Homo sapiens: one gene and its partners. Each later gene encodes a partner of the first gene's protein in a complex. Each region holds a gene or a part of one and is shown in the gene's direction. Other genes may lie near its edges. The genes, in order: RBL1, TFDP2, ARID4A and MYBL2.

The links.
Region 2: RBL1 (region 1) and TFDP2 share a complex: the UniProt entries of both Homo sapiens proteins name them as parts of the DREAM complex.
Region 3: the proteins of RBL1 (region 1) and ARID4A are in contact, whole or in part, in a crystal structure (PDB 7SMC), measured with the Homo sapiens proteins. Residues at the interface, in NP_002886.2 of Homo sapiens: Tyr849, Ile850, Lys853, Val854, Thr860, Phe861, Gln862, Met865, Lys866, Arg869, Tyr879, Arg880, Asp929, Leu930, Ile931, Tyr934, Asn935, Val939, Ala946, Leu947; in NP_002883.3 of Homo sapiens: Leu957, Val958, Cys959, His960, Glu961, Val962, Asp963, Leu964, Asp965, Asp966, Leu967.
Region 4: RBL1 (region 1) and MYBL2 share a complex: the UniProt entries of both Homo sapiens proteins name them as parts of the DREAM complex.

Annotation. Positions count from the first base shown.
Region 1 is NC_000020.11:37,092,980-37,099,864, reverse strand, and holds the start of RBL1 (retinoblastoma-like protein 1), read left to right. Parts: upstream 1-3,867; 5' UTR 3,868-3,936; coding exon 3,937-4,092; intron 4,093-6,885. UniProt on the Homo sapiens protein: Key regulator of entry into cell division. Directly involved in heterochromatin formation by maintaining overall chromatin structure and, in particular, that of constitutive heterochromatin by stabilizing histone methylation.
Region 2 is NC_000003.12:142,146,523-142,153,976, reverse strand, and holds the start of TFDP2 (transcription factor Dp-2), read left to right. Parts: upstream 1-4,432; 5' UTR 4,433-4,794; exon of another isoform or gene 4,795-4,863; intron 4,864-7,454. UniProt on the Homo sapiens protein: Can stimulate E2F-dependent transcription.
Region 3 is NC_000014.9:58,294,724-58,301,573, forward strand, and holds the start of ARID4A (AT-rich interactive domain-containing protein 4A), read left to right. Parts: upstream 1-3,831; 5' UTR 3,832-3,977; intron 3,978-4,467; exon of another isoform or gene 4,468-4,968; intron 4,969-5,074; 5' UTR 5,075-5,131; coding exon 5,132-5,137; intron 5,138-6,850.
Region 4 is NC_000020.11:43,662,731-43,670,121, forward strand, and holds the start of MYBL2 (myb-related protein B), read left to right. Parts: upstream 1-4,383; 5' UTR 4,384-4,553; coding exon 4,554-4,573; intron 4,574-7,391. UniProt on the Homo sapiens protein: Transcription factor involved in the regulation of cell survival, proliferation, and differentiation. Transactivates the expression of the CLU gene.

The DNA of each region.
Region 1 (6,885 bases):
CTCCCAAGTAGCTGGGACTACAGGCGAGCATCATCACGCCCAGCTAATTTTTGTATTTTTAGTAGAGACGGGGTTTTGCCATTTTGGCCAGGCTGGCCTCGAACTCCTGGCCTCAAGTGATCTGTCCACCTCAGCCTCCCAAAGTGCTGGGATTACAGGCATGAGCCACCATGCCCGGCCCCCATTACCCCCAATTCTTTGATATCTGGTTCAGGTATTCTTAGCTATTATCTTTTAGTTAGTAATTTGGATGAAATGCTTTACTTTTTTTAAACATTGGGGTTAACAACTACATAAAAAATTGAGTTTGCATTTTTCAAAATTAAAGGAAAAAAAGGTAGCCAAAAGGAATCACAAGTATGACTACGGTAGGGTGAGAAAGGAGAGAGTAGCAAATGAAGGCAGAGTTAGACAGGGGACCACCAGACCCTTAGTGCCTTGTAGGCCAGGACAAGGAGCTTGGCTTAACCCTGAAAGAAATGGGGAGTCACTAGAACATTTTCAAACTTTTGGATTTTTGACAATTGAATAGATTAAAATATGGTTTTATACCGGTTTAAACTTGTATATATATTTTTCCTATTAGAAAGGTTGGGGCCGGGCACAGTGGTTCACGCCTGTAATCCCAGCACTTTGGGAGGCCGAGGCGGGTGGGATCACGAGGTCAAGAGATTGAGACCATTGTGCCAACATGGTGAAACCCCGTCTCTACTAAAAAGTACAAAAATTACCCTGGCGTTGTGGCACACGCCTATAGTCCCAGCTACTCGGGAGGCTGAGGCAGGAGAATTGCTTGATCCCAGGAGGCAGAGGTTGCAGTGAGCCGAGATCTCTCCATTGCACTCTAGCCTGGGCAACAAGAGTGAGACTCCGTCTCAATAAATAAATAAATAAATAAATAGAAAGAAAGAAAGTTGGGCATCTTTTCACATCTAAAAGCCATTTACATTTGCTTTTCTAAGATTGTATGCAAATCCTTTCCCCCTTCTGTGGGTAGAGAGGCTTTATTAATCTTTGTAATGCACTACTTCCACAGTGCAGAACCAGCTTAAAGATCACCACTTTAGTTTTTCCTCCAAGGAAAAAGAACATTAAGAATGGTGAGGTCCAGCTGGGCATGGTGGCTCACGCCTATAATCCCAGCATTTTGGGAGGCTGAGGCGGGTGCATCACCTGAGGTCAGGAGTTCAAGACCAGCCTGGCCATCATGGCGAAACCCCGTCTCTACTAAAAATGCAAAAAAAAAAGTTAGCCGGGCATGGTGGCGTGTGCCTGTAGTCCCAGGTACTTGGGGGGCTGAGGAAGGAGAATTGCTTGAACCTAGGAGGGAGAGGTTGCAGTGAGCTGAGATCTTGCCACTGCACTCCAGCCTGGGTGACAGAGTGAGACTCTGTCTCAAAAAAAAAAAAAAAGAATGGTGAGGTCAGGTCTTGCCCCTCCCCCACAAATATCAACTGCTTTTTTTTTTTTTTTTTTTTTTTTTAATAGAAGGTTAGACAAGCAGTTTGTCCTGAGAGGGGCAAGTGCAGACTGATTTTCTGCTTAGGGCATAGCAAAGCTGGAGGACAAAAAAAGAAAAAAAAATTTAAGAATTTCAAAATGAGACATCTTGGGAAAATTAGTTAGAACTTTCTTGTACTTTCTTACACTTATTTTGTGATTTAGAATTGCATATATTTTGAATTACATTTGGAAGGGTACACACTATAATCTTTTTAGTCTTGGAATCCCTAAAGGTCATAATCAGGTTCCAACCACATGCTTTGGGAGAACTCTGAAATATTAAACCACAACAGGGAGGCTAATCATAGAGGCTATCACACAATGGGATCAAAATAGAAACAACCTTCATGTGTATCTGGCTCAAAACTGAAGGGCAGAGTAAATCTATTTCACTACCCATACTTCATTTTCTTTTTTCTTTTTTTTTTTTTTTTTTTTGAGACGGAGTCTCGCTCTGTCACCAGGCTGGAGTGCAGTGGCACGATCTTGGCTTACTGCAACCTCCGCCTCCCAGGTTCCAGCGATTCTTCTACCTCAGCCTGCCAAGTAGCTGGGATTACAAGCGCCCGCCACCATGCCCAGCTAATTTTTGTATTTTTAGTAGAGACGGGGTTTCACCATGTTGGCCAGGATGATCTCGATCTCCTGATCTGGTGACCCGCCTGCCTCAGCCTCCCAAAGTGCTGGGATTACAGGTGTGAGCCACTGCAACCGGCCTTCCATACTTCATTTTCTATTCAGAAAAGCTCAATTTTGGGTTAAATGGGCATGTCCTGGGATAATAAGAAAAAATAAAACCAATATAAGGAAGGGCATATTGATTTTTGGTTTTTTTAAATGCATGCAGGTGAGGCTGGGTTTGACAGATGTGTCCTCAGTTGTTTGTTTTTGAGACAGAGTCTCACTCTGTTACCCAGACTGGAGTGCAGTGGTGCAATCTTGGCTTACTACAGCCTCTGCCTCCTCGGTTCAAGCGATTCTTTATTCTCATGTCTCAGTTGCCCAGGTTGTTAGGATTACACAAGTGCACCCACACGCCCAGCTAATTTTTATATTTTTAGTAGTGACGGGGTTTTGCCTTGTTGGCCTGACTGGTCTCAAACTCCTGGACTCAAGTGATCCACCTGCCTCGGCCTCCCAAAGTACTGGGATTACAGGCAAAGCAAATAATGGAACAACAAAAGAACGAAGACAGGGATTTATTGAAAACAAAAGTACACTCCATAGTGGGGAAGCGAACCCACGCAGCAGCTCAAGGGCCCAGACACAGAATCTTCTGGGGTCCAAATACCCTCTAGAAGTTTCCCATTGGCCACTTTATGCTCTCTTGATGTAACTGAAGTGGTAGCCCACAATCAGTCTGAGTGGTTGCAGAAAGCAACCAATCAGAGGCCAGGGTGAAGTTAACAAAATTATACTTCTATGCAAAGGAAGACTCTCCCGCCATCAGTCTGATTGGTTGTGGACAGCAACCGTTCAGAGGCTGGAGTGAAGTTACAAAGTTGCAAACAAAGACTGGAAGGCGCTCAGTGTGATTTGTTGCAGACAGCCAATTTCCCATCTGCCATGCAGAAAAGGTCCAAGGGAACAGCCTCTGGTTCTTTTGTTACTTAGGCGTGGAAAGTTGGGGTTTTCCTTTCAATTTAGTTCTAAGAAGTCACGTGAAACAGCCATAGGTTCCCTGCCTCCAGACCCTATTCTCCTGCCTCATTTACTGCAGTCTTCTCTGCCTGCCTCTTTTAGCGACTAGCATGAGATGAGGATTCGTCTTCTAATATCCGTCACCAATCCTTCCCCTCTGTCATTTAGCGAACCACTCACTGGGCACTAGGACTTTGGGGAGAGTCCCAAGAGGCCCCTCTTCGTCCAGGGGCTACTTTTTTCTCTTCCAGCCTCCATCTCCTAACTCAAGGGGTACAGCTCAGATTATGTTTGGCGCCCAGGGACAGTGACAAACCCAGGGCCCGTGGATAGAGGAGGCATCTCACTACGCTGCACGAGGCCACCTCGCAGTAGGCAGCCCAGCCCTGCCCCAAAACCCAAGAGCCTAACCAGGAAGACAGGGGGAGGCCGCGGGCTTCATCTCCCAAGAGATGGACTACACCTCCCAGCAGGCTCTGCGCGCGGGCTGAGGATCCCTCCGCTCTTTTTCTGTCCCGCCGGCTGGGCCCCCCGCGACCAGCCAAGGGCCAAGGACAGGTCTTTCAGAATCTGAGGTACATCTTCTTATCACATTTCCGGGGAGGGACTGCTAGGAGCTCCGGAGGAAAAACGGACTTTTTTTGAGGAGAAAAGCGGAGGCAGACGGTGGATGACAACACGTCCCGCAGCTGCAGATTTTCGCGCGCTTTGGCGCAGGTGGTTGTGGGTAGCGCGCCTGGGAGGGAGAAAGAAGTCGGGGGCCGTGGCGCGCAGCCCGCGGGGCCTGAAGGGATGTTCGAGGACAAGCCCCACGCTGAGGGGGCGGCGGTGGTCGCCGCAGCCGGGGAGGCGCTACAGGCCCTGTGCCAGGAGCTGAACCTGGACGAGGGGAGCGCGGCCGAAGCCCTGGACGACTTTACTGCCATCCGAGGCAACTACAGCCTAGAGGTGAGCGGCAGCAGGTGGGGCGGCCGGACCCTACCCTCGCCAGGCCCCACCCCTGCCCCGCCCCTTCCTCGGCCTATGGGGTGGTGGGAGTTTCCCCACCTAGGAGGGTCGCTGCGCAGCCAAGCGCCGAGGGGCGGGAAAGGTGGGTGTAGCTCAGCCAATCCACCCATCATTTTGAGGCGGGAAACTGAAGCTCAGGAAAGGAGCGGCCTAGGTCCCGCGCCGCTCAGACCCCAGGCTTCCTGACCACACTTCCCTCTACCCCGCCAAGCGCCACAAAAGTCATGGTGCTGCCCTTAAATCAGTAAGAACAAATATAATGGTAAAGTGAAAATGAACTGCATGCCAAGACATCACTGCCCAGAGCTTTAAATGGACCCTCAGTTCCGTCTGAACCCCTTCTGTGATCCCCATTTCACGCAAGAGGAAGCGGAGCCCTAGACGGGTTAAGCTACAGGCCCAAGGTCACACGGTTAGAGATGGAGCCAGACCCAGGGTCTGAGCCGTTTAACCTCCACCCTCTGCTTCACCAGGGTGGAGCTGCCGGTCGCTGTGCAGCAGTTTGATCAAAGCCAATGTGCACACGAAGCTGATCTCAGCCCTACGTTTCCTCCTCCGTCAGAGCATCGTCCTGATGCTTTGCATCAGTGTCTGGCTCTGAATAAAACAAATGTCAGTTATAATTACTTGATTTTTTTCCCCATCATTCTTGCATTTTATCCTCGCAACAGCCCTGTGAACATGGCATGGCAATGAGTATTAGACTGCTTTCCAGGTGATAATGGCAAGGCTCAGAAGGTTGTCTTGCCTAGGATTATTCTAATATAGAAACCCAGGCTGGGCGTGGCGGCTCACGCCTATAATCCCAGCACTTTGGGAGGCCAAGGCGGGCGGATCACTTGAGGCCAGGAGTTCGAGACTAACCTGGGCAACACGGCGAAACCCCATCTCTACTAAAAAAATACAAAAACTAGCTGGGTGTGGTGGCGCCTGCCTGTAATCTAGCTACTCGGGAGGCTGAGGCAGGAGAATTGCTTAAACCCAGGAGGCATAGGCCGCAGTGAGTGGAGATCACACCACTGCACTCCAGCCTGGGTGACAGCAAGACTCTATCTAAAAACAGAGAAAGAAACCCAGACGAGCATAAGCCCAGTGTAGACAGAATTGTGATGGAGTGTATTTCATGTAGCACCACTGGCCTCATGTTCAAAGGCTTTCATGTGCCAAGGGCGCTGGACCCACTCCCAGGGTGCACCACTGACTCACCACCCAGTGAAATAATTGCTGGGTTCAAAGGCATAGAGTTGGAAAAGTGTCGATTGTATGTGTGCCTATATATGAAGGAGTAGTACCTGAAAAAAGTGTCTTCAGAACTGGATAGACTGGGTAAAGGACAATGGTCCACATCCGTGGGTGGCATGACTGGAGAGCTGTGGGAAGAATAAGAAAGTAAGGGAGATTAGAATGAATGGCGTCTCAATTGAAAACAGATTGATTTTTGAAAGCCTGAGAAAGCATTTCTGACATCCTAGGTCTGATTTGGTCTCTCTTGCCCAAGGTCACACCATCTGTCATTGAATAAGCATTTACTGTGTCAAACTATGGTCAAGGCATGCACCTGTTTCAGATTCTTGAATATGACAAGTTTGTTCCCAGTTTTGTGGTATATCCATGCCATTCCCTCTGCCTGGAATATTTCCCCTCACCCCCAACACCAGGAAAAGTTGAGAGCTAAATCTCTAGTTAGGCAGAGTTGAATAGGACATCTTCAATGTTTGCTCTACTTATTTATTTTTTCTTTCTTTTTTTCTTCCTTAGAAACAGGGTCTTGGCCGGGCGCACGGTGGCTCACACCTGTAATCCCACCACTTTGGGAGGCTGAGGTGGGCAGATCACCTTAGGTCAGGGGTCCAAGACCAGCCTGGCCAGCATGGTGAAACCCCGTCTCTACTAAAAATATAAAATTAGCTGAGCATGGTGACGTGCACTTGTAATCCCAGCTACTCAGGAGGCTGAGGCAGGAGAATCTCTTGAAACCAGGAGGTAGAGGTTGCAGTGAGCCAAGATCACGCCATTGCACTCCACCCTGCACAAGAGTGTAACTCCATCTCAAAAAAAAAAAAAAAATGGAAAGAAACAGGGTCTTGCTCTTTTGACCAGGCCTGGAATGCAGTGGTGCAATTATAGCTCACTGTAAACTCAAACTTCTGTGCTCAAGTGATGTTCCTGCTTCAGCCTCCCCAGTAGCTGGGACTATAGGCATGCACCACGGTGCTCAGCTAATTTTTCAATTTTTTGTGGAGATAGTATCTGACTATGTTGCCCAAGCTGGTCTTGAACTGGCCTCAAGTGATTTTTCTGCCGCAGCCTCCCAGAGCATTGGGATTACAAGCATGAGCCACCGAGCCCAGCCCAATGCTTGCTTTAGAAAGCACAAATGTATGAACTGAAATTTTGTGTTTATTCTATCCAGTGTTTATTTTCCTCTTTTTTTAAAATCAATTTTTTAAAGGTATTTGGAGTAGTCATTTTCATATATCTCATGCTTCCTAAGAAGTCTTTCTCCAATCCCTACCCCTCTCTAGTCTACCTGACAAACTCCTGCTTACATTTTTATTGATTTACAAATTTTGTCTCCTTTTGTGAGGCCTTCCCTAAACTGTAGTCAAAATCAGTTATTCACTGCACTATATTCTCCTACAACACTTTATCTTCAGTTCTTCTTATAGCTTGTATATCTCACCAATTATAAATGATAGTATCTGTTCCTCTTCTTAGCTCCAGATGTGAAGT
Region 2 (7,454 bases), on another chromosome or scaffold:
GTGCATTACCAGTTGTTAAATATTTTGACTGTCACCCCTGTTCATAATCTAAGACCCTGTGGAAAATTTCACATGTACAAAGGAGACAGGAATATTCATAGCATCAGAATATGAAAAAAGGTAAAAACTCCCAAATGCCTTTCAGTAAGAGAATGGATTATCTGCCGGGCATGTTGGCTCACATCTGTAATCCCAGCACTATGGGAGGCCAAGGCAGGCGGATCACTTGAGGTCAGGAGTTCGAGACGAGCCTGGCCAACATAGTGAAACCCCGTCTCTACTAAAAATACAAAAATTAGCTGGGATTGGTGGCGCGCACCTGTAATCCCAGCTACTTGGGAGGCTGAGGCAAGAGAATCACTTGAACCTGGGAGGCAGATGTTGCAGTAAGCTGAGATTGCACCACTGCACTCCAACCTAGGCAACAGAGCAAGAGTCTGTCTCAAAATAAAATTAAAAAAAAAATAATAAAATAGAATGGAGTATGTAAATGTTATTTTTGCATTAGTGAAAATGAATGACCACCCATCAAGATAGATGACCCTCTTAAAATGTTGAACAAAAAAAGATTGGCAGATGAATAATAAATTTTATTCTAAATTTATGAAGTTCAAAAACATGAAAAGCTAAGCAATATATTATTTGGATATACATACACGTGTGTTAAGATTATAAAGAAGAACATGGAAATTATACACAGAATTTAAGATGTTATTTTGGAAAGGGAAAGTTGTGGGGACACACTGGTAGGGGGCACATGAGGTTTCAATGGTGTTAATAATATGTTGCTTAAGCAGGTACATGAGGGTTTATCATGATTCCTCATATCTCACATTTACTTTATATTTTTTAGGGTGAATAAAATATTTTATCCTAAAAATATTTTAGGTTTGATATTAAGGGGTTACTTTTATTAAGGGTGACTTTGAAACCTTTCTACTGCTCTAATGCAGTCATTCCAGAAAACTGGGGAGAGGTTGAATCCCTCCCTGAGGAAATTCCGAGGCTTCGCCTCTACTCTGTCCTATTAAGGTGATTAAACTGTACATAACAGGATTGTCTCTAGAAGCAAGACCCAGATTTAACACTTATAAGTGTTATTTCTTTTGTCAGTCACTAGATGGATTTGGTGTGAAAAGAAGATGCTTTAAAAAAAAATCTGAAACTGTTCTGACAACTGCAGATCTTTTCATGTGATAAAAGGTGTCACTAAGGACCTTCTTACTCCAAGTGTGATTTTTGGCTGCTGAGGCAGCACCAGCATCACTTGGAAGCCTGTTGGAGATGCAGAATTGAAGCCACACCTTACAGACTGAATTGTAAGATTCCCTAAGTGATTACTGTGCACCTCAAGGTTTGAGAGGCAGTGGTCCAGGAGTCTGGTACTTCCACCTGCAAAAGCAGTATCCAGTGCCAGCAGAGGGGGCAGCACGTGGAAATGCCTCAGGTTTAACTGTAATGGACCCGTCTTTTTCACAACCCTCTTTGTGTTGGCTATTCTGTGGCCCGCATATTTCTAAATAGAGTAGACTTTATTATACCTCTCTCCTCTTTCCAAATTTGCTGGGCTGTGGACTCTCATCTATTCAATAAAAACATTGAACTTCCATTAAGCACTGAGGAGATGATAGTGAATAGAATGATATGACTTTGACTCTAGAAGCTTACAGTCTAATGGGATGCAGGTAGCAAGTGAGTAATTACAAGTTTAATGAATGTTGGAAAGTCAAAGAAAATTTTATGGGAAAACAGTTGGAGATGGGGACTCCGGGGAAGCTTTTCTGGAGAAAGTGTTGTTTAAGTTTAGATGAAAAGGCATGTGCAGGTGAGTTGTGGGTGAACTGGGGGATTGTTCCAAGCATAAGGAATGCCAATGAATGGTGCTCTTTGGACATCTGTTTGTATTGCCAGTGCCTTGCATAGTTCTTGGCATACAATAAGTGCTTAATAAATGTTTGCAGAATCAATAAATGTTCTGTCACATTTCAGATGTCTACTCTCTGGCATTGGAGATGGTGGAAACTTTATTTTCCTTTTCAAAGGAAATAAGATCCCTTAATGGGGAAATAAGAAAGAAAGCTGACTGTTGTGCAAATTGCTAAATTGGAACTATGAGTGGGAATGAAAAATTGATTTACATGAATTTTCTTCCCTGTAGCAACTTGACAATTTATTCTGTTCTGGAGAATTCTCAGTTTTTGGCTTAAAAACCAAGCTGTTCCTCCTTATTCTGAATTTCTTGGCCTGCTGTGAAACTAACATTTACTGTCTTTTACAACATGCCCTGATTAGGTCATGGAAATTCACAACTAAATCAAACTAGGATATGGAAAATTTGAAACTTTCACTGCCCATTTTATGTAATGGCGTTGGAAGGTGTTATAAAACATTGACTTTTAAATCTTTATTTTCAAAAGCTATATTATACGATGAATATAATAATTGCCATCATTTATTGAACACTTACTACATGCATTACATAGCAAAATCCTCATACTACCTCTGCAAGAGAGTAAGTTGAACCATATGAAAATTGCCCAATATCAGCAATTTCATGTGGTTCAACCTAGTATCTTCAGACTCTGACCTATAAAGAGGTTAGGGAATCCCTCATAGCCATAACTTCACTCCAAATTTAGTACTGAATCTTTTAGTACTATCTTTTATAGATAAAGAGATCCTAAGATAGTTACAGCTCCTCTATGACAGCGACCCCTTTCCCTACATTAGCCCAAGCACTTTGTGTGTGTACTTCCATCATGGTTATTTACGCATTGAATTGAGGTGGTTTACAATCCATTTCCTCTGCTACACTGAGTTCCTTGAGGGTGGATGTTTTGTCTGTCTTGCTCATTTTTGTATACGTAGTACCTAGAGTGAAAAGTATTTGTTGAATATAACTTTAAGTTTTCTTAAAGTTATATTTTTTGTGGAAACTAAATTTTTATTGATTTGTTACTGGAGAATGTGAAGTAATCACTGGGGTTTTTGCATTTTAGAATCAGTCAGTGGAGTACTGCATTTGACATTCTTGGACTCTCAGGACTAGTTACATGCAATTATGCATACAATTGTCTCTCCACCCTGCCCCAGAGAAAGATCTGAAAGTGCTCTCTTACCTATCTCATCTCCTTTAGGCATTTGCTTAAATACCACCTTCTCCGTGCTACCTTCCCAGATCACTCTATTTAGGACTGAAGCCATTCCTCCAACACCTCTGCTTATATTTTTTTCCCATAGCACACATACCAGCATGTAATATAGTTTTTGTTTTACGTATTCTTTTGCATATTATCTTTCCCATCCTGCTAGAATGTAAGCTCCATGAAGGCAGGAGTTTTTGTCTCTATTTTGTCCACTGATGTCTCCCCATATCAAGAATAGTGTTTGGGGCCGGGCGTGGTGGCTCACGCCTGTAATCCCACCACTTTGGGAGGCCCAGGCGGGAGGATCTCTTGAGTCCAGGAGTTCCAAACCAGCCTGGGAAACATGGCGAAACAGCCGGGTGTGGTGGCGCGGGCCTGTAGTCCCAGCTACTCGGGAGGCTGTGGTGGTAGGATCACCTGAGACTGGGAAGTCAGGGCTCCAATGAGCCGTGATCCTGCCACCGCACTCCAGCCTCGGTGAGAGCAAGACCCCGTCTCAAAAACAAACAAAGTGGCATATAGAAGATCTATAAGATTTGACTGGAGTAAAATGAGAAAGATCTAATCGTTTTAATGCGCTGTTCACACGGGGTTTTTAACTTCGGCACGAACGAATGAACAAAATCTTTTCATATGGAACCAAGTGTACGGGTATTTGGGGTGTGTGCAGTTTCCGCGGGACAGAATGACCTGTCCTGGTTTGGGTATTAACTTGCCTTGATATTGAAGAACCTCCACATTCCCAGTGGTCTCTAACTCATTGTCTGAATAATTTCAAGGTGTCCCACAGTTGGCCCCACGCATAGCCTCAATCACGATCACTCGCCCCCCTGTCCCTTATTGATGCTCCCCCAGGGCGACCCCGCAAAGGCCTGGGGACCGAATGGAACTGCCCCAGTCCCCCTCCTTCCAAGAGAGCTGGGGTTTTCTGGCTTCGGGGTCAGTTGGAAAAGAGATTCCCACCCAAGTCGCAGGGTGGGAGTAGGGGGGATGAGATAGGAGTGATGAAGGAAGTGTGTCTAAAATTCTAGGCCTCAGGCCCGCAGCTGTCCCTGGAGGCGGCGGGGAAGCGGGGTGGTCGGGTCCTGCGGAGGGCTCCCAGGGAGGCCACAGGGGGAACCAAGGGGCGGTGGCTGAGTGCACGAGTCCCGCCCCTCCATCTGTTGGCCCCCTACTCTCAAAGGGAAGCCTGGGGGCGGGGTTTGTTTACTCCGTGCACGCACTGCCGGCCCGGCCAATCCGTGGGGAGCGGCGCCAGGCGTCGCACATTCTGAGGGCCAATCGGCGCGCACTGTGCTGCTCCGCCGCCAAAGCTCGCGCGGGGGAAGCGGGGCTGTAGCTGGGCAGGGAGAGGGCGGACGAAATCGGTAGCGATCTCGGCTGCGGCGCTGCCGCAGCTGCCCGGCCCGCGGGGCGCGCCCTGACCCTTCATCTTTGGGCAGGCTCGAGGGCGCGCGCACGGTTGGCGTTCTGGGGCCTCAAACTCCTGGGCCTTGACCGGGCAGGCCGCGTCTCCCCGGGTGTGAGTCCACCGGGACCCGGCCGCCGCCTAAGCGCGGGCGCCACAGAAGCGGCGGCGCCCGAAGACGCGCTCCTGGCTCGGCCCGACAGCCTCGCTTGGCCGCCAGTTCTTCTGCAGCCGAAGGCGGTAAGGTCTGGGGCGAGGGCGCGGGCCCGCGCGCGGAGGGCCTTTGGACCCGGCCGGGCGCGTTCCTGGGTAGGTTTCCCTCCCTGCGCACAGGGGCCCCCTTGTTCCCCCACGAGTCCCATCTGTTTAGACCTGGGTTCTCCAGGCCTGGCCGGGTAACCCGTGAGTGTCTGGGCCAGAGTCGAAAGCAGAGGAGGGTCACCCTCTTAGTGCATAGAGCAAATCGGGGGAGGTAACGTCCCTGAGTCACGCCTCGTGGAAGAGGGGAAGGGCTGCTTTCTACTTTCTCGTTCTCTTCAAAGAAGGATGGCTTCTAAATCTGGTTTTCCGATTTTTCCCTTCTCCTTTCATGACTCACAGGCCTCTGTGTCCACCAGGTGTTTTGTTTGTTTTTAAAGAGTTTCTAAGCTTTGTGTGCTTGGAAGAACCTCATATGCCCCATAAAGGAACTTTTCTCTGAAGTAGAGGATCGCTTTTTGGGCCCAGACTCCTTTGAGAAAATCTGGAAAGCCAAGGTCTGTCTTCACAAAGAAGTGTAAGGGTTTTCCTAGGATCTCGCTGAGAGACAGTACAACGAAGTGGATGAGCGCCCCAGTCTCTCTTACCAGCCTGTGCTATCTCCCATTGTGTGATCTCGGTTTCTTCATCTGTAAATTAGATGCATCCACCTATTCGGTGTGTTTCGGGGAGTGAATGGACTAATGTATGGAATGCAATCGTAAGAAAATCCTCCACGTATTAAATGCCTTGCATTAGTTAGGCACTTTTATTATTGACTGCCATGGATGCTGGTTTAGAAAAAGACCCTATATTATTTCCCTTTTAGTGTTGAGACAGTGAACGGGCTCATTCCTTTTCCATATTCACTGCTGAAGCTGCCTTTGAGCCCATGAATACTTTTATCTTTTCCTCATTCCATCTCAGAGGGCACAGACTCCCTCTCACTTATTTGCTTTCTTTCAGTAAGGCTCTCTTTTAGCTCAGCCTTCTCCTTCCCCTGTCTCCCCGAGATCTGAGTTTTGTGTCTTTTCATTTGACTTGCACAACCTACTTTTTTTTTTTTCTGGGCCATGTGTTTTCTCTTCATGGCTTGAATTTATCTTCACCTAATAAATAATTTACCTGTTTTTTTTTTCAGCTCGTGAATATATATTCATCTATTTTCTATATGGCATAATCATGTCCCTGTCTCTCTTTAAAAGTAGATATAAAAATAGTTTAATTGATCTATATTGCAGCTTCCTTTTCCATTTCATTGTTTAGCCTGTTATTTAGCTAAACTTTATCACTATCAGATTACTGTAATTAATCTTTAATGGCAGTGTCCATTCTCAGACAGCACCAGGAGAAAAATCAAATGCCTAGACCCCAGATTCTGTCACACTTGTGTACTGGCTCTGGATGTGTTTGTTATTTATTAGAACATCTTGTGCCTGTAACTAGTCTAGTCTAAGAGTAGACATGGTGTCTGTAGCGTTGTTCTGGCTGTGCAGTTGCAGTTTGAGCACTGTGGCCCTTACATTTGTTAATAAAAGGTTCAAGACTTACTAAACTCTTACTTTTCAGTTCTCTTCATTTCTAGGTGTTTAAAAAGGAAAGCTGAATTTTTGCAGTGTGTAATACTTCATATTCTCATTTTGTGATCATGTAATTCCTCCCACCCTGACTCTTGTGAATGTGTAGTCCAAGTGGCACATGGAAGTTTTTCTCTGGCAGCTAAAATTCTTAACTGTCTGAGCCGTGTGCCCTCAATATAACTGATGAAGTGGGATGTACTTCCTTGTCATCATCTTTTAAACTCTTATTGCAATATGTGTTATAATGGATCTCAGAAGAAACTAGAAGGCATAGATTGAGAGTTCTTTTAGATCATAGAATTTTAAATTGTAGTGGATTTTAAAGAGAATCAAATACACTCACCTCTTCATACTTAAATCCTTTCCGTTTTAATCTGGGATACATGACTCTAGGTGTGCGGCATGAATAGATATGAAAGTAGGCTTGTGAACTCTTGGAAATATTATGCAAAATTATGCATATTTGTATATTTTTTGGAGAGACTATTTATAGTGTCATAGTTTCTGAGGCAAAGATATTTGATCAATTCTTTTTTTTTTTTTTTTTGAGACAGGGTTTCTCTATGTTGCTCAGGCTTGTCTGGAACTCCTGGGCTCAAGTGATCCTCCCACCTCACCCTCCCAAGTAGCTGGGGTTATAGGCACACACCTCGCCATGTTTGGACAACTCTAATTTTTATAAAATTATTTCTTTCACTGAACTAGAAATTGTGTCCTCACTGTCTCTTCTGTATTGTGGGTTTTCAACTATTTGAAGATACTTATATTCCACTGAGTGTTAGAAAATATTCTCAGTCTTTAACCTCTGCTAGTGACTTTTGTGTCATTGTTTTCATTCACATCTCCTCACAGAACTCATAGCCCACTTGTGGATTTGTTTAGTTCATCCACATTCTTCTGACAAGCATGGTACCCCAAATTAGGTATTAACTAGTATAGAAGACTAAGTTACCTCTCTAATTTTAAAGCATGTACTTTAAGAGTAGACTTGCTTCTTTGGCAACCACATTACACTGTTACTTTATAATAATTTACTAGTTAAGAAGATTAACTTTGGGGCTAACCTTCCTGTGTTTAGATCCT
Region 3 (6,850 bases), on another chromosome or scaffold:
TACTGAGCTGGCCATCACCAGTTGTTGTATAAAATCCACTTTTTCTCGCACATCACAATCTGACCAAGAAATGGTTTGTTGTTGCAAAAAATAAGGGATAAGGACACTTCAAAACAATGACTTTTTTTTTCGGTCAGTTCATGAGGCACCCACTTATCGAGCTTTTTCACTTTTTAATTTGCTTCAAATGCTGAAGGACTGTAGAATGGTCCACATTGAGTTCTTCGGCAACATCTCAAGTAGCCTTAAGAGGATCAGCTTTGCTGATTGCTCTTAACCGGTAGTTATCAACTTCTGGCGACCAGCCACTACGCTCCTGATTTTCAAGACTTTCCTTCCCTTTGCAAAATTTCTTGAAACTGCCAGGCACAGCGGCTCAAGCCTGTAATCCCAGCACTTTGGGAGGCCAAGGCGGGCGGATCACGAGGTCAGGAGTTCGAGACCAGCCTGGGCCAAGATGGTGAAACTCCATCTCTACTAAAAATACAAAAATTAGCTGAGCATGGTGGTGCGTGCCTGTAATCCCAGCTACTGGGGAGGCTGAGGCAGAATGGCTTGAACCCAGGAGGCAGAGGTTGCAGTGAGCCAAGATCATGCCACTGCACTCTAGCCTGAAAGAGCAAGATTCCATCTCAAACAACAACAACAAAAAAACTTCTTGAATCACCACTGCACTGTAAGTTAACAGTTCCTGAACCATATGCATTGCTGATATGGTGTCTCTGTTGTTTTACAACCCATTTTTAACTCAAAAACGAAAACTGCTCGAATTTGCTTTTTTGTCTAACATCATTTTCATTGTCTAAAATACACATGAAGGCTGGGCACGTGGCTCATGCCCGTAATCCCACCACTTTACGAGGCCGAGGCAGGCAGATCATGAGGTCAGGAGATCGAGACCACCATGGCTAACATGGTGAAGCCCCTTGGCTCTATTAAAAATACAAAAAATTAGCTGGTGTGGTGGCACGCGCCTGTAGTCCCAGCTACTCGGGAGGCTGAGGCAGAAGAATTGCTTGAACCTGGGAGGCAGAGGTTGTAGTGAGCCGAGATGGTGCCACTGACTTCAGCCTGGCGACAGAGCGTGACTCTGTCTCAAAAATAAAATAAAATAAACATGAAATAAACAGAGAGTAATAAGTCATTACCAAAAGAACAAAGCGAGAAATGCCCATTAAAATGATGTATAACATAACCACATTTATTTAACAACGTAGTCCAACATCAAATGGCAAATTCCAATAATGCAAAAACCACGATTACTTTTGCAACGACCTTCTTAGACACAATATTTTGCAAAACATGTACAAGGATATTCACTGACATATTACTGCCATTATAGAAAAATAAACACGTTACATAAATTATGATATATTTATCCCACAAAACACTATGAAGACATAAAAGATGCTTTACGATAAGATATTTCCAATATTCCCAATGTTTTCTATAAAGAATAGACGGTAATGAACAACACTAGAATATTTGGTAAAACAAAACCAACAAAAAAGACAAAGCCTTTTGTATAATATATAACTATAGTGTAAACCGTAACTACCTTTTGGAGGAGGGAAGACATTTTTGTATTCTTCTTTGGGCTTTTTAATAATTTCCAAATGTCCATGCATTATTTGGATTCAATAATAACAGTTTAAACTTTGATCGTAGAATTATGGATGCTTACCCCCTAGAAAATTCAGTAATATATTGTTTTATAAGGTCTTTTAAAAAACTGCTTCACTCCTACGAGATTGCGCCACTGCACTCCAGCCTCGATGACAGAGAGAGACTCTGTCTCCAAAAAAAAAAAAAAAAAAAAAAAAAAAGCCTCACTCCTAAACACTCCCATTTACAAGATCTTTTCTATATAAGAACTTTTTAAATAGGCGGGTGGGGGGGAGGAAATCACAAAAATACGCATAATGTTTTATAACAAAAACATGAGGTATATCAAAGTCCAGAAATGAGAACCACGTAAATGGGTAAACAAGTCCATAAGGATGTCCTAATTTTGGGATTTCATTCTAAAATATTACACTAGAAAGCTAATTATACAGACTCATTTGAATCTGACCAAACAAAACATCTTTTAACTACCCTTCCTCCCATTCTGGTATTTCTTTACTAATCCATAGAAAGTTTTTCCAGGTAGTCCCCCGCAATTCTAAGGATTTTTAGACTTTATGACTCACCTCAGTAATCACTGAGATGTTCTGTTTTCTTCAGCACAACTGCCAAAAAACCCAGTAATTGTTAAGTCACACAATCATTTTCTAGTTATGGGCGCCACCAATATAGCAGTAGGGTTTAAAACAGAGGTATTGAGGGTAACTATTAGGATCTATCCAGTGTGACTAGGTCACTCACTAGAAATGCCAACATGCATTTCACGTTTTTATGAATACTTTTGAGCAAAATTACTGTTACGAATAAAAAACTGATTCTGCTCGGCTGTTTTCTTACTGAGAAAATTTAGTCCACGTGGATTACTGACGATATGTCACATTTTAAAAATTACTCCATTCTATAAAACTAGTCAATTTTATACTCCAATTCCGCTATTTAAAAATGTGTGTTTCGTTTAACAGAATATAAGATGTTAACAGAAAAAGATCAACGTCTATCTTATCGGGGACGTCCTTTTGTCTAAGATGTTTTCAGTCCCTGCAAAACCACTGTTTGCTTTCAAAAAGTAGCATAAGCCTCGTGCAGAGTGACAGACCCTTGTCTAAGGTCACAGAAGAAGCGTCTGCGCTGGCAAGTAAATTCCTCAGCATCCAGAAAGCCAGCGCTTTCTCCAGTTTCCTCATAGCTTTATCCCGTGAGGAGCACGCGGAAACCTCTACCCATGCAGGATGTTTCTAAGAACCACTTCTTCCCTGTCTTAACTAAGAAGGCTCCCACAGCTGGTGCCAATCAGGTGGAGAACATGGCAAGTCCCCGAAATGCACTTCCAAAGACAGGAAAGATTGCAGTGGGACAGAACCCAGAAAATCTCTCACATTCTCGAAAACCCGAAAGAGAACCTCCAAGAAAGACGTTTGCCTCTCCTCCACCTCTTTATCTCGGCGGGAGAGGAAGCCTCGCCCCCATTCATCCCGCCCCTTCTCCCCACCCCGCCGCAGGGAGAAGTTTACCATGGCTGCCTGCGGCCCCTTCACTTCCGGTGCCGGTGCCGCTAGGGCTGCGCCATCCCCCCAGTCAATCGGACAACCATAGCCTCCAACTGACCTTTCTGACAGCTCTGAGACTCCTCCGGCCACGACTAGGTGCTGTCCTGGAGGAAACGGTGGAGGACGGCCGCACAAAAACCAATCTACCTGATGAAAACTCCGTTCCCTTCTCGCCAGAAACATAAAATGCGATGGAGCTACGGCCACCGCTGCCGAGACAAAATGGCGCCGACAAGCTGGTTTAGCGCAAGCGCCTTGGACAGACCCTGCCCCGCCCCCGTGCAAGCCCCTGGCTGCAATTCTGGGTTCCGTTTCCATGGGACACTCCGCCGCCAATCCTCGTGTCGAACTGCTCTTCCTGACCCCTCAATTCACCAATCAGTGCCCAGTCAAGCACATCCGGAGTCGTCTCTACCAATCATTTCTCAGGACTTGCTTACTCAATAACCAACTCTCCAATAAAGTTGGTTTTCGGAAAAAGCCAATCATAAGTGGAAGATGTCCTACCTGCTGTTTTTCTCACCAATCCATGAAGTTTCACAGCTACATCCAATGAGGACGGCAGGTAGCGAGGTCCTATCCGAAGCTCTTCGGCGTCATGAGCAGCCAATAGGAGTTCGTGTAGAAGCGAGTCTGCTCAACAGCTTGTTATTTGGTGGATTGTGGCAGTAAATCGGGGCGAGTGGGGAACCCGGCGCAGGAACTGCAGCCGCGGCTGGGAGTGGTGCTGCCCGGACGGGGGCCCACGGAGGTCAGAGGGGAGGAGGACTCTGGAGCTGACAGCGCGCACTTCACCCGCAGTTGGTAGGTGGGGAGAGGGGAATCCGGGGATACTGAATGGACGAAGTGGCAGTAGCAGCAGCTGCTGCTGCCCGAGGTCCCGGTGCAGTTGGAAGCTTTGGAGGTGGGGAGAGGGATGCTAGGCAAGTGGCACGGCGAGCGCAAGGGAAGGGGCCAGCCATTGACCAGCGGCAGCAACTGCAGGAACCGCCGCCGCAGTTGCAGCCGCCTCCTCGTCCGCTTCCTCGGGTTCCCGGGAAAATGGCTGTGGGGCTGGCCGCGCCGCTAAGTTTGCTTCCGCGCGGTGAAGAGCGGGCTGCTTGGGGGAGCCGTCCCCCAACTCCGCGGCGCGTCCACCTCTGCGGAGTCCGTGGCAGGACTCGAGGGGCTACGAGCTGATACCTCTCTGGGCTGTACAAAAAGTTGAGGCGGGCGCTGGGAGGAGGCAGCGGCTGCTGCGGTGCGGCTCCCCTCCCCTCCCACACCCTGTCCGGGCCACCTCCCCTCCTCCTCCCCTCCGCCCCCCGCCCCCTCCCCCACGCGGGTCCCCCGGGGCTCTGGCGGCTCCCGGCTGAAGGCCGCGGCCCCTGCCCCTTTGGGTGAAGGAGCGCTTCTCCTTTCTGACATGGTGCAGAGCGAAGGAAGGAGAGCAATGGCGCCGTGACACTCCGCTGCCGCCACCGCGGGCCCGGGGCGGGCCGAGGGGGCCGAGCGGCGGAGGCGGGGCGCGGGCCGAAGTCGGGGTATCCGGGGGACCGCGGAGCGGAGGCTCGGCGGTCGTCTCCGCGGGGGACCTGGGGAAGCCCGAAGGGAGCTCTGGCCTTTTCCGGAGCTATCTGTCCTGGAGCTCCGAGTTGAGCATTCCGGGTCAAAGTGGCCAGCGAGGCGGGGGCGCGGTGGGCCGCTGGCGAGCTCCGGGGCGGAACGGGCTGCCCTTTGGCGCTCGTGGGGTTCTCGCTGCCCCCTCAGCTCCTGCGTCCTGGCTGCCCTCGTAAGGGGTCTTGTCCCTTGGCTGGTGAGGATTCTGCCCCTCCCCGCTGGCGTTTGTTTACTTTCTTTCCCTTGGTCGCTCCCCGCAGTTGACTGATTATGTCTGTGCCTGTCTTTCCCCCTCCCCATAGTTCTAGCGACTGCGAAGATAGCTCGCTGAGCTGGAACCCCACAGATCACCAACAAAAATGAAGGTAAGTGGAGTCAACTCTGCCCCGATCCTCGCGCCCTGAACACTGCCAATCCTAAGGCTAGTGCCGTGGAATGTCATTTGTTTTGCTACTCAAAATTGATGTTCCTACTGATCAGCAGTTTCGGCATAGGAGGATGTGTTGAATGGGTGAAAAATGATCTGTGTGTCTAAATGCGGAGTTTAGGCCCTCTCTGTAGCAGTACTTTGGAAAGGCTGGTGCAGCCTTTCAATTGTTGTCCATTCGGATAGTATTTTTAAACACTTCCTGTGTTGGCAGCAACCTTTGCAGAAGTAAAGCTTTTGTCCTGCTTTGGTTCTTTGGGGGATTTTTTGTAAATTTTTTTTCTTCCCGTGTGCCAATGCGATTTTCTAAAAGAAAGAATACGTGGATTAAGTAATGAAGGTATCATTTCTTCTGTGTGTAAAATGAACTTATGTGGCTAAAATATTTGAAGTTGAAGTATAATAATAGTTTTAGTTAAATCTTTCCAATAAGTATTTTAAAACATATACTAAAAAGATACATATTCTACTGAGGATGACTGCAAATATCAGTATGTGGATGGTTAAAGGGAAAGGATCTCATATAGCGTTCTTGAATGCTGTGGCCATTGAATGTTTCAGGTCAGATTTTTGTTTGCCAAAAGCATTCCTATTCAATTTGTATTTTTTGTAAATGCACTTACTTTAAAAGGTACCCAATTCCTGTCTTATTTACTGTTTCAGCATATTAAGCTCTGAAATATAGCATTTTCCCAAACTTTCTCGTGGTTTTCTATTTTCTCGAAGTAAATGACATATTTAACCTTCTTTAATATTACTTGGGAAAACTTATTAGAAAACAAAAAATCATTTTCTACTTCAAAACGTATCTCCAAAGTGTACACTGTTAACTTTGCACTTAACAATGTTAAGTTGAACTTGTATGGATACACTTTAACTTCCGGAAAAAAAAAAAAAAGGTAAAATGACAGATTGAGATAGCAATCATCCTGTTACTGTAAAAATTAAAATGAGTGGTAGAGTGACATTTCTTACATCTTTCTATGTATCATTCTGGTCGTGTCCATTTGCTGAAAGTAGATGTTTCTTAGTAACGCTTATTTTTTTATACTAAGAAGATTAGTGTGGTAAACTAGGTATACCTACAAGTCTGGAGCCATCAGTTCATATCTGCATTCATCGGCTGAATTCAGACTTAAAACCTTTCAAGTGCAGCTTTTAGCAAATGAATTTTCCAAATGATACTTTCCTTATGAAAAGATGTTACCTTTATGTGGCTATGTCAATAAACAATTATGTATTGTTAGTGTTAATATTAGTAGCAATATTTCTTTTAATTTGAAAAATTTCAGGAAGCTATAAATGAATAACTTAGTTTTATGATATGTGTAATATGAAATATTTTTTCTGTTTTTTTCTTATCTTTCTGCTTATATAATAGTAGAATTTTTGAAAAATTTTGTATCGAGACAAAACATTATTAATCACTGATAATTTTGAATTACAACTTTAAAACATTTTATCATATCAGGACATCAGTCTATAAAATGAAAGGTTGCTAATCAAGTATTTAGGGTATTTTTCAAATTTTCAATGATATTAATAAGCAAGTCATTTTAATATTCTTAATGCTTCAAACACAACCTTTTAATGAGACTTGAGGTTGGAGTAGGGAGGCATAGTAATGACATTCACAGTTTTATGTTCCTTT
Region 4 (7,391 bases), 6.6 Mb from region 1:
GCCTTCTAAAGTGCTGGGATTACGGGCATGACCACTGTGCCCAGCCTGAATCTCTTTTGATGACCCATATTTTATGAGATACAATTCAAACTCTAGCATTCCCAGCTTTCTCACTTGAGGTCCAAGCCTTTCTAACTCTCCAGCCCAAATGTTAGCTTTGTAACATTGCATCCACTCAATTTAAATGGAATGTGTAGAACCCCTTCCATGAGTACCTACCAGAAGCCAAGCTATAGTAAAGGTCTGAAGCTTAAAATGTGCACAGGCTGTCCTTTCTCTTGAGAGAGAAATAAAATGGTGGAGGAAGTGTGATGAGGACAAGAATGATAAGGAGGATGCTCTGGAGGTGGAGGGGGAAGACTCCAGCCAGAAGGGCCATGTGATTCTACTTATCATCAATTAGTGTTTGGTGTCCAAGCTGGTGCTGAGCCCTGAGCATTTAATAAATTGATTTGACCCTTATCTTCCCAACACAGGGTCAGGCCTGGGGGTTGGGGCAAATTGTGGAATAACCAAATACCTGGAGCCTCCCTGTCCAAGGAGGGCGTGTTCAGGAAAAGTTTCCCAGCAGAGATAAATTCTGTATGTTACTAGTCCAGAGTCCAGGGACCACTCCCAGGTGTGGTTTCACTCGGGACACTGGGAATCCTCTCTCCAGGGGATATCTGTTGGTATGATGATAACTGGAGAGGAAATGTGTGGAGATCATCAGATTCCATCTGGCACTAGGGTGATCTCCCTGCTGCCTGACTCACAGCACTGACTCCAGGCTTCTTTGGCTCTGGGGCATTGGTTAACTGGCCCCAGTTCCAGGTTGCAAGTGCACTCTGCAGCTGTTCCCTGCCTCTTGCTTTGGGCAGATACCTTGCCCAAGCTGTCAGGTCCTGCCTCTCCCTGAAATGGGATGACTAATGTGTGGACCTCAAAGGATAAGAGTGAGGGCAGCTGAAGAATTACAGTAGTAATAATAGCTAACAGTAATATAGTTCTTTTTTTGCTGGGCGCGGTGGCTCACGCCTGTAATCCTAGCACTTTGGGAGGCCGAGGTGGGTGGATTGCCTGAGATCAGGAGTTTGAGACCAGCCTGGGGAACATGGTGAAACCCCGATCTCTATTAAAATACAAAAAATTAGCCAGGCGTGGCGGAGTGCTTCTGTAACCCCAGCTACTCGGGAGGCTGGGGTTATTGAGACGGAGTCTTGCTCTGTTGCCAAGGCTGGAGTGCAGTGGCACGATCTCAGCTCACTGCAACCTCCGCCTCCAGGTTCAAGTGATTCTCCTGCCTCAGCCTCCTGAGTAGCTGGAGTTACAGGTGCATGCCGCCACGCCCGGCTAATATTTTATATTTTTAGTAGAGATGGGGTTTCACCATGTTGGCCAAGCTGGTCTCAAACTCCTGACCTTAGGTGACTCACTCGCCTCAGCTTCCCAAACTGCTGGGATTACAGGCATGAGCCACTGTGCCCGGCCAATATAGCTCTCATTATGTGCCAGGAACTGTTTTTGGTGCTTTACACATATTAATTTATTTAATCCTATAATTACCTACAAAGTATAGTGATTAAGAGCATAGACTCTAGAACTAGACAGGCCAGGTTTGAATCCCTGCTCTGCCATTTACTAGCACTGTGACCTTGGGGAAGTCTGTGCCTCAGTTTTCCCATCTGCTAAAAGAGGATAATCCCAGTATCTACCTCATAGAGTTGTTACAAGGATTAAATGAGTTACAATTTATAAACAGAATGCTGGCTGGAAATATTAGCTGGGCATGGCGGCGTGCTCCTGTAACCCCAGTTACTTGGGAGGCTGATAGTTTAAAAACTATCTAAAATTTTGATAAATCCCATTTTTCCAGGTGAGAAAACTGAGGCACAGAAGAGTTAGGTAATTGGCTGGGCATGATGGCTCATGCCTGTAATCCCAGCACTTTGGGAGTCTGAGTCGGGTAGATCACCTGAGGTCAGAAGTTCAAGACCAGCCTGGCCAACATGATGAAAACCCATCTCTACAAAAATACAAAAAATAGCCAGGCATGCTGGCGCATTCCTGTAGTCCTAGCTACTCGAGAGGCTGAGGTGGGAGAATCATTTGAATCCGGGAAGTGGGGGTTGCAGTGAGCCAAGATCACACCACTGCACTCCAGTCTGGGCAATAAAGCAAGACTTGGTCTAAAAAAAAAAAAAAAGTTAAGTAATTTGCCTAAGATACCGCAACTGAATGGTGGAGCTGGGACTCAAACCCCAGGAAGTTTGGCTGTGGAGGCTGTGCTTTCAATGAAGTGGGCATGTCCACATTAATTACTTTATAAGGGGAGTGGGCGGGAGAAACCCTGAATTAAGTGATGTGGAAGCTTCTAGCACTTAAGATGTGAGTTAGTCTTCCTTCTGTGGTAAGTGAAGTTTGCAGCAGCTGGTGGCTGGACTGTCCCCAGGTGGCCAGCAGCTTCTGGAAGGGGGCTCTGAGGCCTGAACAGGGGCTAAAAGGCTGGGGTTTGATTTGGTTTCTTCAGCGTCCTGTCTCAGAGCTCATTTATCTTCCTCTCAGCACTGCTCCCAGGAAGTCCAGTGTGACTTGATCCTTGGTACTTGGTAAATGTCAATCTAATATAGAAAACCTTTGCTAAATCTCAAGGAAAGACAGTCTCACTGTCTGTCGCCCAGGCTGGAGTGCAGTGGCGGGATGACAAGGGCTTGAGCCCCTCGAACTCCTGGGCTCAAGCAATCCTCCTGCCTCTGCTTCCCAAGTAGCTGGGATTACAGGCATTCACCACCACAGCCAGGTAATTTCTTAATTTTTTGTAAAGACAGGGTCTCACTCTGATCCCCAGGCTGGTCTCAAACTTTTGGACTGAATCAGTTCTCCCACCTCGGCCTCCCAAACTGCTAGGATTACTGGCATGAGCCACTAAATCTGGGCTAATCTCTGGGAGTTTAAACCCAAGGTAAACAATTCAATGCAACAAACCTTTGCCTGGGGCTTCTTATGTCAGGTCTTCTACTGGGCCCTGGAGATACTGGTGTGCATTGAGAGGCCACCTGGACCTCAGGATGCTCCCAGTTCAAAGGGGGAAATGCAGAAGTCTACAGGCAGATTGTGGGCAGTGGACCCCAAATTAAATAGGAATCAGCCACGTGGGAGGGGCAGGAAGTGTTCCTGCCCTGGGTAATGGCTCAGGCAAAGGCAAAGAGGCCGTTTCTTTTGGCCAGGGCTGGGTGGTGGTCTGGAAGATCAGATAAATGTGATTGTGGAGTAAGGAATTTACCCTGAGGGAGAGGAGGATGGTTTTAAATTCTGGAAAGAGCTCACGCCTGCAATCCCAGCACTTTGGGAGGACAAAGCGGCAGGATCTCTTGAGCCCAGGAGTTTCTAGACCAGTCTAGGCAACAGCAACATAGCAAGACACCCCCTTCTCTTAAAAAAAAAAAAAAAAGCGCAGTGGCTCACTCCTGTAATTCCAGCACTTTGGGAGGCCGAGGCGGGCGGATCACGAGGTCAGGAGACCTATACCATCCTGGCCAACATGGTGAAACCTCGTCTCTACTAAAATACTAAAAAAAAAAAAAAAAAAAAAAAAAAATTGCCGGGCGTGGTGGTGTGCGCCTGTAGTTCCAGCTACTTGGGAGGCTGAGGCGGGGGAGTCGCTTGAACCCGGGAGGTGGAGGTTGCAGTGAGTCAAGATCGCGCCACTGCACTCCAGCCTGGCGACAAAGCGAGACACCGTCTCAAAAAAAAAAAAAAAAAAAATCAGCCGGGTGTAGTGGCGAGTGCCTGGTCTTAGCTACCCGTGAGTTGAGGTAGGAGGATCGCTTGAGCCTAGGAGGTGGAGGTTGCAGTGAGCTATGATCGCGAAACTGCACTCCAGCCTGGGCGACAGAGCAAGACCCTGCCTCTAAGAAAAATGAACAACAAAAAATAAAGTCTATTAAGGAGGGTCTCTTGGAGGCAGGAGAGGAAGCAGGGAGAGGCACAGGTAGGGTGAGGAGCCGCTTTAGGGTGCGGCTCTAGGGACCCAGTAGTGGCTTGGACTAGCGTGGGGGATTCCGCCCTGGCGCTTTCCCTGGCTGGCTCTCCCATGCTCGCGCCTCGCTCCCCTTCCTCGGTCTTCGCTATGTGGGATACTCCTGGGCCGCCCCGGACTGACACGTGAGCCAGGCCTCGGTCACATCCCGGCCCGCTCCACAACTCCGAAGTAGCGGCCGCCGCCCCTGTCCTGCAGCCGGCCCTGGAGGGTCTGGGCAGGTGCCGCCCCGCAGGCCCCGCCCCGCCCCGCCCCCTGGCTCCGCCCCTCACTCAGGCCCCTCCCCCGGCGCCCGCGCGCCAGGACTGGGCGGCGCCGACGCGCTTGGCGGGAGATAGAAAAGTGCTTCAACCCGCGCCGGCGGCGACTGCAGTTCCTGCGAGCGAGGAGCGCGGGACCTGCTGACACGCTGACGCCTTCGAGCGCGGCCCGGGGCCCGGAGCGGCCGGAGCAGCCCGGGTCCTGACCCCGGCCCGGCTCCCGCTCCGGGCTCTGCCGGCGGGCGGGCGAGCGCGGCGCGGTCCGGGCCGGGGGGATGTCTCGGCGGACGCGCTGGTGAGACGAGCCGGGAGGGCTTGGGCCCCTCCCCCTCCCTTTAACTCACCCCTCCCCCACCCAGATACCCCCGACCCTCCCCAGGCTCCCACCAAGCTGGGGTGTGTGTGTGTGTTGGGGGTGGGGTGTTTCCGCGGAAATGCTGCGTCCTGGGCCCTCTGAGGCAGGGGCGCGCGTAAAGCTGGGGGGCTCTTGGGCGTCCCTCGCGGCTCCCCAGGCCTGTTGGGCCTCGGAGCTGGGACGGGCGGGTCTCTTGGGACCCGGGCCAAGCCGTGCATGATGTCATTTTGTCTCCCGCCTAATTGCGGGATGGGGGTGGGCCGGCCGGTGTCAGCTGGCAGGGCCTTCGCCGGCGAGGGAGGCGACCCCTGGGAGCGAGAGGGAGTCTTCAAGTCCCAGCCAGTGGGAGACCGAGCCTGGGAGGCACTTGTTGCAGCCTAGTTTTGGGTCAACTTGGTGGGTGGGCTTTGCTCCTTAACATTCCGGGGAGCACAGAGTCCCCCAAGCCCTCTCCCCTGGACTGAGAAGGGTGCTGAGTTGGGGGCTCTTTTGTCTCTCCCACCTGGGTTCCGCGCCCCAGCTTGGTTCGGTTTGAGACCTCTCTTCCTGTTCCCACGAGGAGTTTTGGGCAGCTGGGGTTGAAGGTGCGGGGGAGAGAGAGAGTCCCTGGGGCAAAGGCAGGAACTGCGGTCTCCATTTTACTTATTTCCCCAGAGACTTAAGTGGCAGAGCTGAGCCCGGAGCCAGGTCTGTGGCTCCAGATCCCTGTCTTACACCTGTGCGCCTGGGGCCTGAGCTCCAAGCTTTTCAGCCTGCCTGGGAGACAGGACAGTGGGGTCCTGACCTCTTCCCTGCCTGGATCGCTGCAGCTCAGATAACCTTCGTTCCCTCTTTTTTTTTTTTTTTTTTTTTTTTGAGAAGGAGTCTCGCTCTGATGCCCAGGCTGGAGTGCAGTGGCGCGATCTTGGCTCACTGCAACCTCCGCCTCCCAGGTTCAAGCGATTCTCCTGCCTCAGCTTCCCGAGTAGCTGGGACTTCAGGCACGTGTCACCACGTCGGGCTAATTTTTTGTATGTTTAGTAGAGACAGGGTTTCACCATGTTAGCCAGGATGGTCTCGATCTCCTGACCTTGTGTTCCGCCCGACTCGGCCTCCCAAAGTGCTGGGATTACAGGCGTGAGCCACCTTGCCCGGCCAAACTTCGGTCCCTCTTTAGACGATAGCCTCATCTAAAGATGAAGCCTTCCATCCCTCTAGATTTTTGCCCTTTCAGGCTGAGGATAGGGATCTGAGCACAGGGACTGTGTTCCTCAGGCCCCACTTTCCCAGGCCAATGTCCAGGAAGAGTTTTCTGTTCAGGCGCCTATCAGACCCTGCCCTGGTTTTTTTTTTTTTTTTTTTTGAGGCAGGGTCTCCGTCTGCAGTCCAGGCCGGAGTGCTGTGGTGCTGTCATAGCTCACTGTAGCCCCAACCTCCCAGGTTCAAGTGATCTTCCCAACTCAGCCCGCTGGGACTGCAGGCTGAGTAGCTGGGACTATGGGCACGGGCCGCCACAACTGGCTAATTTATTTAATTATTTAGGAGACAGAGCCACTCTGTGTTGCCCAGGCTGGAGTGCAGTGGCACAATCTCGGCTCACTGCAGCCTCTGCCTCCCGGGTTCAAGGAATTCTGTCTCAGCCTCCCAAGTACCTGGGACTATGGGCACACGCCGCCACGCCTGGCTAATTTTTTGGATTTTTAGTAGAGATGGGTTTCACTGTGTTGCTCAGGCAATCCGCCTGCCTTGGCCTCACAGAGTGCTAGGATTACAGGCGTGAGCCACCGCGTCTGGCGTGTTTTATTTTGTGTAGAGATGGAAGGGGGCGGGAGTGGCCTCGCGTTGTGTCTCACCTCACTATGTTACCCAGGCTGGTCTCGAACTCCTGGCTTCCAGGGATTCTCCCCCACTTGGCCTCCCAAAGTGTCGGGATTACAGGTGTGAGCCACCTTGCCTGGCGCCATCCTGATTTTTTGTTCAGGAAGAGTTATTCCAGGAGTGACTGCCTCTAGACCACCCCAGGTCCTGGGCTACTTCTCCCATGAGGGGCTCAGTGGAGGAACCCCTCCTGTGTGAAGGATGGCAGCTCCACAGCCCTCAGCCCATTTCCTGGCCACTTGCTGTAACTCTCCTCTGCCCTAGTGCCCCACTTCCCGCTTTGTCTCTGACTCACCCCTGTCCTGGAGCAGAGCCCAGCACGTTGAAGGGCAAAAGGTAGGGTATGTTGGACCACAATGTGGTTGCCACCACTAACTGGACTCTGCTTTTTCAGCTGGGATTAGGATATGAGGACTTGCAGGTGTCTGGAGTTAGGAAGGTTCAGAGCCTGGCTCTATGAACTTGGCAGGTGGCCTCACCCCTCTGAGCCTCAATTTCCGCATCTGTTAAGGGGGATAATGAGAATGTGGGTGAAGTTGATGGCCAGCACATATGGTAAAGTATATCATCTCACAGAAATGCCCCAGCTGTCTGAGATGCTGACCCTATCAAACAGCATTGGAGGCTGGGTGTGGTAGCTCATGCCTGTAATCCCAGCACTTTGGGAGGCCAAGAGTTCAAGACCAGCTTGACCAATATGGTGAAACTCCTCGTCTCTACCAAAAATACAAAAATTAGCCGGGCGTGGTGGTAGGCGCCTGTAAGCGCGGCTATTCGGGAGGCTGAGGCAGGAGAATTCACTTGAACCCAGGAGGCAGAGGTTGCTGTGAGTCGAGATCATGCCACTGCACTTCAGCCTGGGTGACAAAGCGAGACTCTATCTCAAAATAAACAAACAAAC